Linked DNA regions of Homo sapiens. The main gene of each other region encodes a partner of the protein of the gene in region 2 in a complex. Links are inferred from orthologs where the notes say so. Each region holds a gene or a part of one and is shown on either strand. Other genes may lie near its edges.

What was found. Proteins that work in one complex are often made in the same cells at the same time.
Region 1: the proteins of LEP (region 2) and LEPR are in contact, whole or in part, in a crystal structure (PDB 7Z3R), measured with the Mus musculus proteins. The link is inferred for Homo sapiens from one-to-one orthologs. Residues at the interface, in NP_032519.1 of Mus musculus: Lys26, Val27, Asp30, Thr33, Leu34, Lys36, Thr37, Thr40, Arg41, Gln92, Gln96, Asn99, Asp100, Glu102, Asn103, Asp106, Leu107, Leu110; in NP_666258.2 of Mus musculus: Tyr439, Leu440, Thr441, Arg466, Ser468, Leu469, Tyr470, Gln499, Pro500, Ile501, Phe502, Leu503, Leu504, Ser505, Val560, Phe561, Glu563, Asn564.

The regions. Positions count from the first base shown.
Region 1 is NC_000001.11:65,423,648-65,430,673, reverse strand, and holds part of LEPR (leptin receptor isoform 1 precursor), read right to left. Parts: intron 5,372-7,026; coding exon of another isoform or gene 5,296-5,371; intron 2,893-5,295; coding exon of another isoform or gene 2,871-2,892; exon of another isoform or gene 2,665-2,870; intron 813-2,664; coding exon of another isoform or gene 626-812; intron 1-625. Other genes in the region: LEPROT (leptin receptor gene-related protein), read right to left, coding at 626-812, 5,296-5,371. UniProt on the Homo sapiens protein: Receptor for hormone LEP/leptin. On ligand binding, mediates LEP central and peripheral effects through the activation of different signaling pathways such as JAK2/STAT3 and MAPK cascade/FOS.
Region 2 is NC_000007.14:128,237,200-128,244,293, reverse strand, and holds the start of LEP (leptin precursor), read right to left. Parts: upstream 3,017-7,094; 5' UTR 2,988-3,016; intron 1-2,987. UniProt on the Homo sapiens protein: Key player in the regulation of energy balance and body weight control. Once released into the circulation, has central and peripheral effects by binding LEPR, found in many tissues, which results in the activation of several major signaling pathways.

The DNA of each region.
Region 1 (7,026 bases), on a different chromosome or scaffold from region 2:
GATATTCAATGCCTCAAATAAGAGTTTCATAAAATTAAAATAGAACGTAATTGGAGGGAATAAAATCAAATAGTAGGAAAGACAGTGAATAGCAAATAATTGAATAAATTATACCTACAATGTGTACTCTGAAGACAAAAAGAAAGTTTTTGTCTTGGAAGTGAAGATGTCAACTTATTCACTGCATTTTCTGGAAGCTACACAGTTGTCCCTCAACATATACCTATTATACTGAGTTGAGAGTTGAGTCCATGATCCCATTTGCAGGAGAAGAATTTGAAATATCTTCATCTTGCAACTAGAAAAGTACTGCTAGCATAGTATCTGTGGATTACTGTAAGATTTAAGAGGCAGGAATTTAAGAACAATTCCAGAGAATAGCTTAAAGTAGAAAAAGTAAGAAATCATATCGTCTGGCTAAAAGTTGTAAGAGAAATAAAGAAAGCACTCTGAAGGCATGGCCGAACTACTGTTAGGCAGGTCTAAAGTAGAGGAACAGAGAAACTAAAAACACACGGCCTTGAGTATAAAGCCTAAGTAATGAGCATGAAATGGAGGTCCCAGACACAGGCCTCTGAAGTAAACTCAGCAACGGTTGGGCAAAACAATAGAAAATAAAACTTACCACAGCCACACGAGCAAGAATAACAGGAAATCCAAAGGCAGAAACAACAATTCCAGTAGTGAAGAAATATGCCAGTTCCCGACAGGCACTACTGGTTGCATCTGAGTCATAGGTGACTCTTTTGGCAATGAAATGGGGGATGGGGGAGATGGCGTGGAAAATCAGGACGAATAAGGGCCAGTAAACGCTGTCAGTTGGACCCAGGCAAAATCCAAAAAGAAAAGTAACAGTTACATTTTAAATGAAAGACATACTACTATTTCAAAATCATTGCTATTTTAAATGTTTAGGTCAAAAAATTAATTAATTGTGAATATTAGAACATAAGATGATTTCTACCAGGGATAGATAAGTAGTGATAATTTTAAAATTACTATGTAGGTAGCTTATATTGTGTTAAGAAGCCACTATATAATATATACCCTAGAAACTTTACTGTTTTCTGTACCACTGAGCCACAATTTCTTTAAAGACAGAATTTTAACTTGGTCATTTCTGCCTTCCCTATAGAACATAGTAGAGTGTCTTGCAAAAGCTAGTTCGGTAAAGATCTTTTGAGTGCACGCATGCTTGAAACCTTTTAAGAGCTTAGAATAAACCCTAAATTCCTTGCCCTAGCCTACAAAGCCTTTATGGTCTGGTATTATCTACTTCTTCCATTCATTTTGTACTCTTTTCCCTTCATTTGCTTAATCTGTAGCCACACCAGCCTTTTTTCTGTCCCTTGAACACTCTTGAGCTCATAGCTGTTATCCTGGGGCCTTTGCGCTAGCTGTGCCCCCTGCTTGCAATGTCCTTCCCCATGATCTTCTCATTGGCTGACTCCTTCATACCATGTGATCTAAACTGACAGATTCCTTTCTAAAAGCAGAACTTTCCCTGGTCATCTATTCTAATGTACCCCAGGTCACCCTCGAACATACCACCCTCTTTGAACTTTCTGCACAACACTTATTCCCATCTGATAGATTAGTCTTGATCAAACGCCATTTATCTCCAGGGCCTAGAATGATGTACTCCATTTATACTTGTTAAATGAATAAAATAATAAATAAATTTTAAGTACGGAAGGCATGAAAATAAATATGCTCACTAGTGAAAAGCTTAGATGTACTTTGATCTTCATTATAAGAGCTCACAATTAATAGTGTAATGCAAAAACAAAACAAAACTGTTTTCCTCCCAAATTTCAACATTTTGCAATTATAAAAAAAAAATTGCCATCTGGTTTCCAACAGTATTTTCTCTATCAGTACTTCAAAAATAATCTTTTTTTCTCCATCAGACATTTCTTATGCTTCATTTCTTAAGAAAAAAAAAGTCTCTGCTCATTTTTATATATACACTACAATAATTCATATCACCACAATACTGTAATCACACAGATACGCCCAGACAGCACCTACAAGCAGGAGTTGGGATGAAGCCACACTAATGAAAGCCTCCCATTCCAGCCACAGATCTAGGCAACCAAAAGGCAAGAAGGGAATGTGTCCTTCAAGAGGACTCAGGATGGAAACAGTGGATTTGGACCCCTGATTTTAAACTAGAGGGATGATAGTATGTTTCAAGAATCACCAAACAATATTGTGGGAAGTAGCCCTTAGACATTCTCTACTTCAAAGCCCTTCTTTCAACAGTGAGAAAGGAGACACAGAGAGGGGAAGGGGTTTGGAATAGATATGTCACCTTACATATCCACAGCCAAGAACTCTTAATTTTTCCTGGAATACAGTGACAGTTTTGTGAAAAACAATCTGACTCTATGTTTTCATTCATAGTAAGCCACCGATATCCAACTAAGAGAAATATTAATGTACAAGAAACCTTGTTTATATATAAAATGTAAATATTAAATATATACAATTCAATAAATACATAGGCCAGGGGTGGGCCAACTTTTTCTATAAAGGGCCAAAGAGTAAATAACGAGGATCTGCAAGCCATAAAGACTATCTCAACTACTCAACTCTGCCAAAGATAATTGGCAGAGCAATGCAAAAGCAGCCAAAGATAATTCATAAACAAATGAGCATGGCTGTATTTCAATAAAACCTTTATTACAAAAACAGGTAGCAGGTTATATGTGGCAGTTTGCTGACTTCCAATATAGATGATAATCCTGGTTCACTATCAAGATACAGCTTTGGGAGGCCAAGGCAGGAGGATGACTTGAGGCCAGGAGTTCAAGACCAGCCTGAGCAACACAGAGAGACTCGGTCTCTACAAAAACTTCTAAAAAAAATCAGCTGGGTGTTGTGGCATCTCTAAAAAACAAAAAATTAAAATAAAGATAGAAAACAAACTTATTTGTAGTAGCAGTAATGAGTCATTTTCTTACCTTACAAAGACAGTGTATCACAGAGAATTAAAACTCCTAGATTTACAGTTGGTTGTGGAATAGTGGAAAAACGTTTGGTCAAGGGCGTCAGAACATGAGCTCCATTTCCATGTCTGCCATTTTAATTTTTTTTCTACTTTTTTATTTAAGAGACAAAGTCTCACTCTGTCGCCCAGGCTGGACTGCAGTGGTGTGATCACAGCTCACTGCAGCCTCCAACCCCTGGGCTCAACCAATCTTCCCACCTCAGCCTCCCAACCCTGCTACAGGCACCATGCCTGGCTTATTTTAGTTTTTTGTAGAATGGGGTCTCACTTTGTTGCCCAGACTGGTCTCAAACTCCTGGCTTCAAGCAATCCTCCTACCGTTGCCTCCCAAAGTGCTGGGATTATAGGCATGAGCCACCACGGCCGGGCTCTGTCACTTACTGCTGTTCAATCTGGGTAAGTCTTTAACTACCCTGGGCTTTGGTTTCCCAGCGAGAAATGAGGATAATAATACCGTATTACATTCCAAAAGCTAGAATAAAGTAATTGCTGTGAAGGCTCTAAACAAATATAAGTGACCGCTTATATCTGGATCCCTCTTGGGTTTAAACAATTTCTGTAATAGTTGGCCAGGACTGCGGTGATGGATTTGAATTCATCACTGTCATAATAACTCACTTCAATAGGTCTTAACCACATCATCATCATCTTTTTTTTTTTTTTGGAGACAAAGTCTTGCTCTGTCGCCAGGCTAGAGTGCAGTGGCACGATCTTGGCTCACTACAACCTCCACCTCCTGTGTTCAAGCAATTCTCCTGCCTCAGCCTCCTAAGTAGCTGGGAATACAGGCGTGTGCCACCACGCCCAGCTAATTTTTTGTATTTTTAGTAGAGATGGGGTTTCACCATGTTGCCTAGGATGGTCTCGATCTCTTGACCTCGTGATCTGCCCGCCTCAGCCTCCCAAAGTGCTGGGATTACAGGCGTGAGCCATGGTGCCTGGCCTAATCACATCATCTTCTATCTAGTTGTTCAAGCCAATCACCTGGGAGACATCTAAGAACTCTCCCTCCTTGTTGAATCCTGACATCGATGAACAAAACCTGTTGGTTGGTTTGGTTTCCTAACTCACTCTCCTTTTCTTTCCATTCCTACTGCCCCAGCCCTCAATTTTGCTTGATTTATGATAGTAGTCCCCTACTATTCTCCCTGACTGCAGTCTCAGCTCTTTCCTATCTAGTCTCACGTTATGGCAAGAATGACATTTTAACATAACCCCCTCCTCCAAACCCATTCTCAAGATATTTTCCCAGGTTCTATTGTCTGATGTATAAAATGGAACCTCCTCTACACGGCAGGCATATAGAGCCCTAAGTGCTGACTTTTACACTCTTGACTAACCCTTCTTTTGCCACTCCACTACAATTTATGCTGTACCATAATGTACCATGTGTGGTTTCCTGAAAAGGCTATATACACTTTCATGTCTCCGGGCCTTAGCATTCAGCTTTCCTGGTGCCTAAAGTGCTTTTTCCCTAGAGATCTGTATGGCCTGCTTGCTGATTTTCTTGACATTTCTTCTCACTTTTTACCTCCTCTGAGAGGCCCTCCCTGACCACTGTCTTCCCAGCTTCTGTGCTCTTCATCTTTTGTACCATTTCTACCTCTGACAGTATGCATACTTTTGTTGTTTACTGTCCGTCTCCCCCACTGAAACACAAACTCTGAGAGAGCAGGACCTTTGTTTTCTTATGTCTTAATCCCTAGTTCCCATAACAGTAGCTGGCACATGGGAAGCATTCAACCAACAATGGTTGAATGAAAAAATGTGTAGAATGTTCCCTCTGCCTGGAATGTCCTCCCCTGACTCATCACCCTGAAAAACTCTTATTCATCCACCTAGTCTTGGCTCAGATACAACCTCTGCCATGCAGCCTTCCCTGACTGTCCCACTGAAACTCAGGTGCACTTTATCCGAGCTCCAGCGTACTGTGCTGGCATCTCCACTGCAGCTGCCAGATTACTGACTAGACCGTTTGCCTGTCTCTCACTCACAACTAGAACTTTACCTCCTCTTTGAGGACAGGACTCTCTCTTCATTTGTGTGTCCCCAGCTAGTCCAGAGTAGGTGTTAAACAAATGCTTATGGAATGAATACATCAATTTTTAACAGAGCCCTCTGCAAAAGTACACCTGACCCACAAAGGGACTGTGTTCATAAACTGGGCTCCACTAACTCACTGGTTAGAACTTGGTGCTAAATTGACCGAACTCTCTAACACCCATACTAATAGTGACAAAGACACAGAAAGAGGAATAGTTCTTTTTGAAATGATAACTTACCCATAATCCTCTAAGGCACATCCCAGCATAAGAAAAGTCAGTCCAATAGCCCCACTGAAGGATAATGCCACGAGAGCTGTGAAAAATAAAGCCAAAAGTTAAAGTTCCCACAGTAGAGGTTGTCAGGCACTAGAGGGTTTGGGGAAATGGGGAGTGACTTCTAATAGGTCCAGAGTTTCTTTGGCGGATGAGTAAATTTTCTGGAATTAGATAGTAGTGATGGCTGCATAACCTTCTGAATATACTAAAAACCATGAAATCTTACACTTTAAGAATGTTAATTTTATGGTATGTGAATCATTTATCAATAAAAACATTTACTAAAATAAAAAAGAAAGAAAAAAAGGTCCCAAATTCAAGCAAATGTAGCAATTTACTCATTTTATTGAGGTTACATTTGACCCGTTACAGACTGCATTATGTGTGTCCCTTTCAAATTCACATGTTGAAACCTTCCCGGCTCCATCCCTCTCACCGTGAGATGCTATCAGGAGGTGGACCTTTGGGAGATAATTAGGTTCAGATGAGGTCATGAGGGTGGGGTCTCCACGATGGGATGAGTGCCCTTATAAGAAGAGAGAAAGTAGAGCACACACTCTCTCTGTGTTTCTCTCCCTCTGTTCTCCAATGTGAGAGCAGAAAGCAGGCCTGCAAACCAGGAAGCTGGCTCTCACCAGACACCAGATCTGACTGCACCACAATTTTGGACTTCCCAGTCTTCAGAACTGTGGAAACTAAATGTTTGTTGTTTAAGCCACCCAGTCTAAAATATATTTCTTATAGTAGCCCAAACTGATTAAGACAATGACCCATGTCTGCCACCTTGAAATCATAAAGTATACAAAGGTCTCAAGTAATTCCAGTACCTAACCCCTATCCAATGGATGAATTCCCTCTGTATTTGTCACCAGAGGGCAGCCAGTTGGTCCACATAACTCCAGTGAAGGAAAACTCACTACCTCCCAAGGCAAGTCATTTAATTCCAACAGCTTCTAAATGTTGAAAGCCCTCCTTCTTTAAATTATATCCAGAACTGCCTCCCTGTAATATATACCTTTGATCATTTTGCCTCCCCAAACCACAGTACTGCAAGTATTTGAAGATTGTTTTCATGTCTTTGTAGGAAACAATTCCCAACTAGTGTGCACTGAATAAAATATGTATTCCCTGTATCTATTGGACACTAGTCTCTGCGGGAGTAGGAACGTATTTGCCCTTGTTGTGCTGCTGAGTGAGAAACAGAGTATCAAGGTTGTTACAAAATCTTGAGCTCTGAGTCACAAACATGAGTCAAATCTTAACTCTGCCACCATCTGGTCTTATGACTTTGGGTAGAAGCTAATCCTCTGAACCTGATTTCTCACCTGTAAAATGGAAATAATGGTGCCACCTTATTGAGCTTATGGGAATTAAATGAGATAATCTATGTAAAGTGCTTGGCAAAAGGAGGTAGCCAAATAAATGCTGACTGACTCAGGTATCTACTCATTTTAGCAATGTTCTTTGATAAAGGTAGAAATCAAAAGCATAGGAGACTATCTTATCCAAATTTTCTTCTGAAAAAAGTCCATAATACTCATAATTAGTATTAAACTAATTAATTAAGCCAATGAACATTTTTGATTGCTTCCTTTTACTTGAGAGAAGATTTAGAGAGACTCTTTAATAGGAAGGTGCCAAAGTGCTTTTTAAAAAACATCTGAAAGTATACACATGTTAAGGGACAAAGAA
Region 2 (7,094 bases):
TCAGCTCTAATCTGTGTGTGTGTGTGTGTGTGTGTGTGTGTGTGTGTCAGGGTCTTGCTCTGTCACTCAGGCTGGAGTGCAGTGGTGTGATCAAGGCTCACTGGACCCCCGACTTCCCGGGCTCAAGCAATTCTCCCACCTCTCAGCCTCCCAAGTAGCTGGGACTACAGGTGTGTACCATCACATCCAGTTACTTTTTTTTTTTTTAATAGAGATGGGGTTTTGCCATGTTGCCCCAGCTGATCTGGAACTCCTGGGCTCCAGTGATCCACCTGCCTTGGCCTCCCAAAGTGCTGGGATTATATGCGTGAGCCATGGTGCCTGACTTCTGATCAATTGTTGAGGCTCCCTCGAGCTCTGTGTGAGGGGCATCTGAAGCTCCAGCAAGACTCAGAAGGAGAGGTTGCCCTGATCAATTAATGACACCTGTATCTCTGTACCTGTTCCAGCATCTATCACAGGCCTGGAACACGGCAGGGCTTCGTTAAATATCTGTTGCATGAATAAATGAAAGATTTCCCATTCTCGATCTGCATTGGCTAACTAGGGTAACCTGCCTCCTCAATGGTTCGCTTGCTCCCATCTTAAAGTCGCATCCTAGAATTCACTTTGGCCCAGCAGGAATTCTTACGGAGTTGTCTTAATAAAGACAGAAAATGCTTCAGCGTCCAGGTCTCCCTCTCTTGGGGACCTTGGTCTGCTTCCTGCACTTCCTATGTGCCCTCTAGCACCCAGGTGGGCCAGGATTCCCTTCAGCTTCCTAAGCTGTGCTCCATCTTGACTGCCGTCCCTGGATACTCCCGCCCGTGGCCCCTTTCATGAGCCTGGCTCCTGCTCCTGCACTCTGGGACCCCTCCCCTTCTCAGAGACCCCTGCCCTGCCCTCCCGTCTTCTCTGCGGTTTCTCTTCTCTTCCTTGGCAACCCCCCAGCCTGGAGCACCCCAGAGCAAATGTAATGTACACCCAGATGGAGACTAAATCTCCTATGATATTAGTGAAATGTTGGTATGGGCATTGATTATAAATTCCATTCCATAGAGCTAACAAACTGAGCAGGAAAGACGGTAACATGCTGTCTGCTAAGCAACGAGGCACATTGGCTGTCACACGTGGAATAAGTGCAAAGGAGTCTGTGGGCCCAGACACCAAGTGTGTTGTTTTTAAGCAGAAACAACCTCTCTGTTTCTCTGAGACAACTGTGTGGACAAAGAAGAATTTCAAGGCTCTCTGCCGACTGGCCAGAATGGAGCTGCGGCTGCCAGACTCCTACCCCGGTGGGGATGGGGTAACTGACTGCCGGAAAATTTGGCTCAATTTTCCTTTAAATCATACCAGTGCTGTTCACAGATGCACAAGACACAAGGACTCTACCTTCCTGGAGCCCCTCTTCTCTCCTTGGCTCCCACGCCCCTGGTGGCATCTAAGCGGGGGTGGGACATTGACCCAGGTTCCGTGGCGGCCACCTCCACGCTCTGCATGGGCCACTCAGACGTGCAAGGCATCTGCCTGGGGCTGACGGGCAGGAATTCATTGCAACTTCCCTGGCTCTGTCCTTGGCACTTGGAGCCATTTCCTGGAATGGACGGGGAGGAAAATATTTCCCCAAATACCAAGAAGAGTTATTTTGGGTATAAAATGTACAAAATATGAGGAGGACGCTCCTTTAGCCAATGTGGAAATGTTCCCCTCAGCCCAATGTCCACAACTGCTTGGGAAGGGAAAGAACCTAAAAGCATCCACTGTTTCTCTCTTGCCTTGTCTCCCTGCCTAAGTGAGAGAAATGATCAGTGTGGCCTTCTTGTTTCTAAGGGCATTAGAACAGGAGCACTCACGTTGCTAGAAGCCTCCATATCTGGTTCTGCAGACAATCCTAATATGAAAGAGATTGGCAAAATTCCCCAGTTCCAGCTGCCCATGGCCCACCTCAGAATCCTACAGAACAAACACAACTCCGGCTGCCAGAGGTCATTCTGCACTGCAAAGGAAGAGAGCCTGTGCTCCTGGAACGGTACCACCAAGTCTCTGCTCTTCACCCACCTCCCCAAAGATCACCCTTCCAACAGAAATTAATCACCTCTTGGAAGCTGCTATTCTGAAATGACAGCCAGGCCACTTGTCTCACTTGGACCTAACTGTATTTAAGGAGTCACTTTCCCAAAGCACCACTATCTTTAAACTATAGAAACAGGAGTGTAAAGGCGATGGCACCCACAGTGAAATCCAAACCAAGCCCAGACTGAAGGAAGGCTATAGGTGAGCCTGGTGGGCCAACAGCGCGTATTTAGCAGTCCTGGCTAGAAGTTCCCTAATAACCAGTTCTGACCCCCAGAGACACCTCATTGTATGCATTGCAAAGAAGGCAATTTGCATGGCTTTGAGGACAGATCTGGTAAGACCCTGCACAATTTCTCTGGAAGATTTTGAGTCTTCCTGACACTTGTTTCCCCCCACCTCTACTCATCCTTGCCTTCCTCCCAGGCATTGGCCTTACACAGCCCCTCTCATTCAGAGGTCAGGAACTTCCCTGGAAAATGAATCCTGAATTCCTACCCGCAGAGCAAGGCAATGTCTGGGACTGAGACTGATCACTTGCATCTGCGTCTCTCCTACCCCCAACTTTATCTCCTTCAGACTGGGGTGGGACATCCTGATCTTTGGGGATGTGCCCAAGGCAATTTCCAATGCATCTCAGCTCTGCGAATGCCACCAGGTTGGTGGGTCTGACAGTCTCCCAGGGACCTGGCTGGTTCTGCAAGGTCCTGCCTTCTGGGCACCGGCACAGCCCAGCAGCAAATCCAACGCTCCCCAGCTCCCGGTAACCTTCTATCTGGCTAGAACTCGGTACAAAGCTATCATAGTCCAGAACTAAGCCATCCGCCCTGCATCCCTCCTGACTCAGTTTCCCCGGGATCCAGAGTTGTGTGGGGCCCTGTGGCCTGCCAAGAAAGACCAGCAGAGAAGGAGGAAGGAGCGCGCCGGGGCCTTACCTTGCAACCGCTGGCGCTGCGATTCCTACGGGGCTCCATGCCTGCCCGCCCCTCTTATAGCGGCCCGATCACAACTTGCGCAACTGCCCCGCAGGCCCCGGCGCATTTCTAGCGCCAGCTCCCGCCCCGCCCCTCAGGGTAGCGACGTGCCGGGCGGCTGCTAGCCCTGGGCCCGCAGTGTGCACCTCGCGGGGCCTCGAGGGAGGGCCTCGGCGCGCCAGGAGCCACGCGCGCACCCTTGGGTACCTCCCAAAAATTTGGGGGTGGCTGGTAGGAGCGAGAAATCCTTGATGTCCCTCCAGAGGCTCCGGCGCGACTATGGCGCAAGGACCAGCCCCTTGGGAAGGTGCTTCGAGCCGCGCGGGGCGCGGTCGGGGCGGGGGTGGCTGTGAGGGGCTCCGCGGAGCGGGCTGGGGCATACGGCTGCGCCCTCGTTGGTCCTGGCGCGGCTTCGGGGTGGGAGCGAATCGGGACTCGGCCCCGACGGCCCTGGACGCCAGGGAAGCCCAGGGTTAGAGGGAGCGGCCCGCAGTGCGCCAGGCTCCCCGACCCAGATTGCGGGGTTGGGGGTTCTGAAGTCCCACCCCTTCTCTGGCACGCGGAGAATCGAGTTCCAAGCCTCAGGGCAAGTTGTCTCTGGCTGGCACCCCAGGGAGTGCACGCTCTCTGGAGGGCTCCAGGCGGGCACTGTGGCCTTTGGGGACACTCTGGACATACTGTGGGTCTCCATCCTCAACTCCGTATTTCCTACGTACAAAGTGGGGGTTGGGGGGTGGTCCCAGATGTAGCCACGTTTTTGTCATCATAGCCTGTGAGTGGTGTGGTAGGCATGTTTCACCTGTATCGTTTGTAGTTCCCCGCTTTACATGATGGGTTGGTTTGTTTTGTTTTGTTTTGTTTTGTTTTACCCTTGGGCTTCAGGGATGAGGAATCTAAGGTCCAGCGAGGTTAAATGACTTTCCTTAGAATCCACAGCTGGTAAGGAATAGCAATGGGCTAGGAACCCAGGCCTATTCTGGTCCCCACTGCGCAGAGCAGCTCCAAAAACAAACCACTCCATTGAGAACCAACCCAGCCAGGCGTGGTAGCTCAAGCCTGTAATCCCAGCACTTTGGGAGGCCAAGGTGGGTGGATCACCTGAGGTCAGGATTTCGAGACCAGCCTGGCCAACATGGTGAAACCTCATCTCTACTAAAAATACAAAATTAGCCAGGTGTGGTGGTGAGTGTCTGTAATCCCAGCTACTTGAGAGGCTGAGGCAGGAGAATGGCTTGAACCTGGGAAGTGGAGGTTGCAGTGAGCCAAGATCAGACCATTGCACTACAGCCTGGGCAACAAGAGTGAAACTCTGTCTCAATAAAAAAAACAAAACAAAACAAAACCCATAACATAAAGCGGGGAACTGCAAATGACGTTGGTGAACCGAGCCTGCCACTGCCGGGTTTGGTAATGCCCAAAAGCTAAGAATGGTTTCTACATTTGTAAAAGTTTGAAAAAAAAAAATCAAAAGAAGAGGCCAGATGCAGTGGCTCATGCTTGTAATCTCAGTATCCCACGTTGGGCACCAGATATTGGGGGAACCTGCCCCCAATATTTCAACGTAGGTTCTTTCTATTTTCCATAAGTGTCAGCTGGCTGAGAAATAAAGAGAGAGAGTACAAAGAGAGGAATTTTACAGCTGGGCCGCCGGGGGTGACATCACATATCGGTAGTACTGTGATGCCCACCTGAGCCTCAAACCAGCAAGTTTTTTATTAAGGGTTTCAAAAGGTGAGGGGGTGTAAAACAGGGAGTAGATCACATGCTTCAAAGGGCAAAAAGGAGAACTACTGATAAGGGTCTGTGTTCAGCGGTGCACGTATTGTCTTGATAAACATCTTAAACAACAGAAAACAGTGTTCGAGAGCAGAAAACTGGTCTGACCACAAATTTACCAGGGCGGAGTTTTTCACCACCCTAGTAAGCCTGAGGGTACTGCAGGAGACCAGGGCGTATCTCAGTCCTTATCTCCATTGCGTAGGATAGACATTCCCAGAGCGGCCATTTATAGACCTCCCCCCAGGAATGCATTCCTTTCCCAGGGTGTTAATATTAATATTCCATGCTAGCAAAAGAAATTAGCAATATCTCTCCTACTTGCAGGTCTATTTATAGGCTCTCTGCAAGAAGAAAAATATGGCTCCCTTTGCCCGACCCCGCAGGCAGTCAGACCTTATAGTTGTCTTCCCTTGTTCCCTAAAAATTGCTGTTATTCTGCTCTTTTTCAAGGTGCACTGATTTCATATTGTTCAAACACACATGTTTTGCAATCAATCTGTACAGTTAACACAATTATCACAGTGGTCCTGAGGTGACGTACATCCTTAGCTTATGAAGATAACAGGATTAAGAGATTAAAGCAAAGACAGGCATAAAAAATTATAAAAGTATTATTTGGGAACTGATAAGTGTCCATATTAAAATGAAATCTTCAAAATTTATGTTCCTCTGCCACGGCTCCAGCCGATCTCTCTGTTCGGGGTCCCTGACTTCCTGCAACATCTCAGCACTTAGGGAGACTGAGGCGGGAGGATCAGCGCAACCCTGTCGCAAAACAAAACAAAAGAAGAATAGTTCTCATGGGAAAATTACAGGAAATTTGCATTTCTGTGTCTATAAAGTTTTGAATTCTGTCAACAAAAAATTGTGTAAATTGTTTATTCTTGTTGTATAAGTACCCATGTAATATCCTCAATTTTGCCTTGGCTTAGAAAGCCTAAAATGTTTTCTACCTGGCCCTTTAGAGAAAGTTCCCAGCCCTTGAACCAGGGAACACACATACATTGCACATTGATTCCTCCAGGCCTTTTTTCTTTCCAGTCCGTCTGTGGGGATGCCCAACTGTGCATCCATCGCTTCTCCCGGAAGAATCTCCCCATTCCACTAGGGCCTCTCCATCCTTAAAGAAGCTTTTCCTAGTTCCCCTTGCAGCTAATTCCTGTCTCTCAGTCTGGGTTGGGTGCCCCTTTCCATCTCCTCCCTTAGGTTTTAAGAGGACAGGGATTGGGCCATCAACTGTTTCAGTCCCGGTACTTTTCCAGTGCCAAGAACACATGGGTGCCCAGGGAAAATTTGCTGAATTGAACCCCAGGAACAACACACACCATAGAGATGATTTTTGTTATGTGTTATATTCATGTACCACTATACAGGGATTCCTCTAGACGCAAGGCCACTGGGAAGGTAAATGTTTAAAACTTGGGAAAACACACCTGCAGTGATGATGCGGAGGGAACAGGAAAAGCCAGGATCACACAGGTCCTGGAGACCACAGTCACATTGCATTCGAGGCTTCCTAATGGAAACATGTTTCCCAGAGAATGTGCATTCTTTGAGTTGGTAGGAGTCTATTTGGTCATTGCTATGCTCCTAGCTCATAGCCTGGTGTCTAGCTCAAAGTTTTTTAAATGAAAAATTTAAACATACAGAAAAGTGTGCAATACTATAGTGAACTACAATATACCCATCACCTAGATTTAATAATTATTATTTTCCATATTTGCTTCATTAATTATTTTGGCAAAAACATTTTAAAGTGTATTGCACACATCATGACATTTTATCCCTACTTTGGTGCTTCCCAAAAAATAAGGAAGAATTTCTGTGTAACTGCAAGACCATTATCACACAATAATAATTCCCTAACATCGTGAAAGCTAGTCTATACAAAATTTCCCCAAATATCTCCCTCTTCCACTATAGACCTCCTTAAACAAAATAATGAAAAATGAATAAACCACAAATTTTAGTGGATGTTTTCATACCTCCATCAGGACATCAGTGGCAGTATTTGGGAAGTTTTAAAAGGTGGTCTTTATAGCATCTCTTCCTCCAGTCAACAAACACACAGTCTTATATGTTTGTGAGATACATAACACACTATGCCTAAAACTTAGTGGCTTAACCCAAGACTATTTATTTAGCTCATAATTCTGTGGGTCCAGCAATATGGCCTGACTCATGCCTGTGGTGGCTGGCTGGCTATCAGCTAAGATGATGAGGGTAACTGGTCTAGCCTGGGCTTGTTTACATGGTGACAGCTGCTGGATTCCCTAGAGCAGCAAAAGA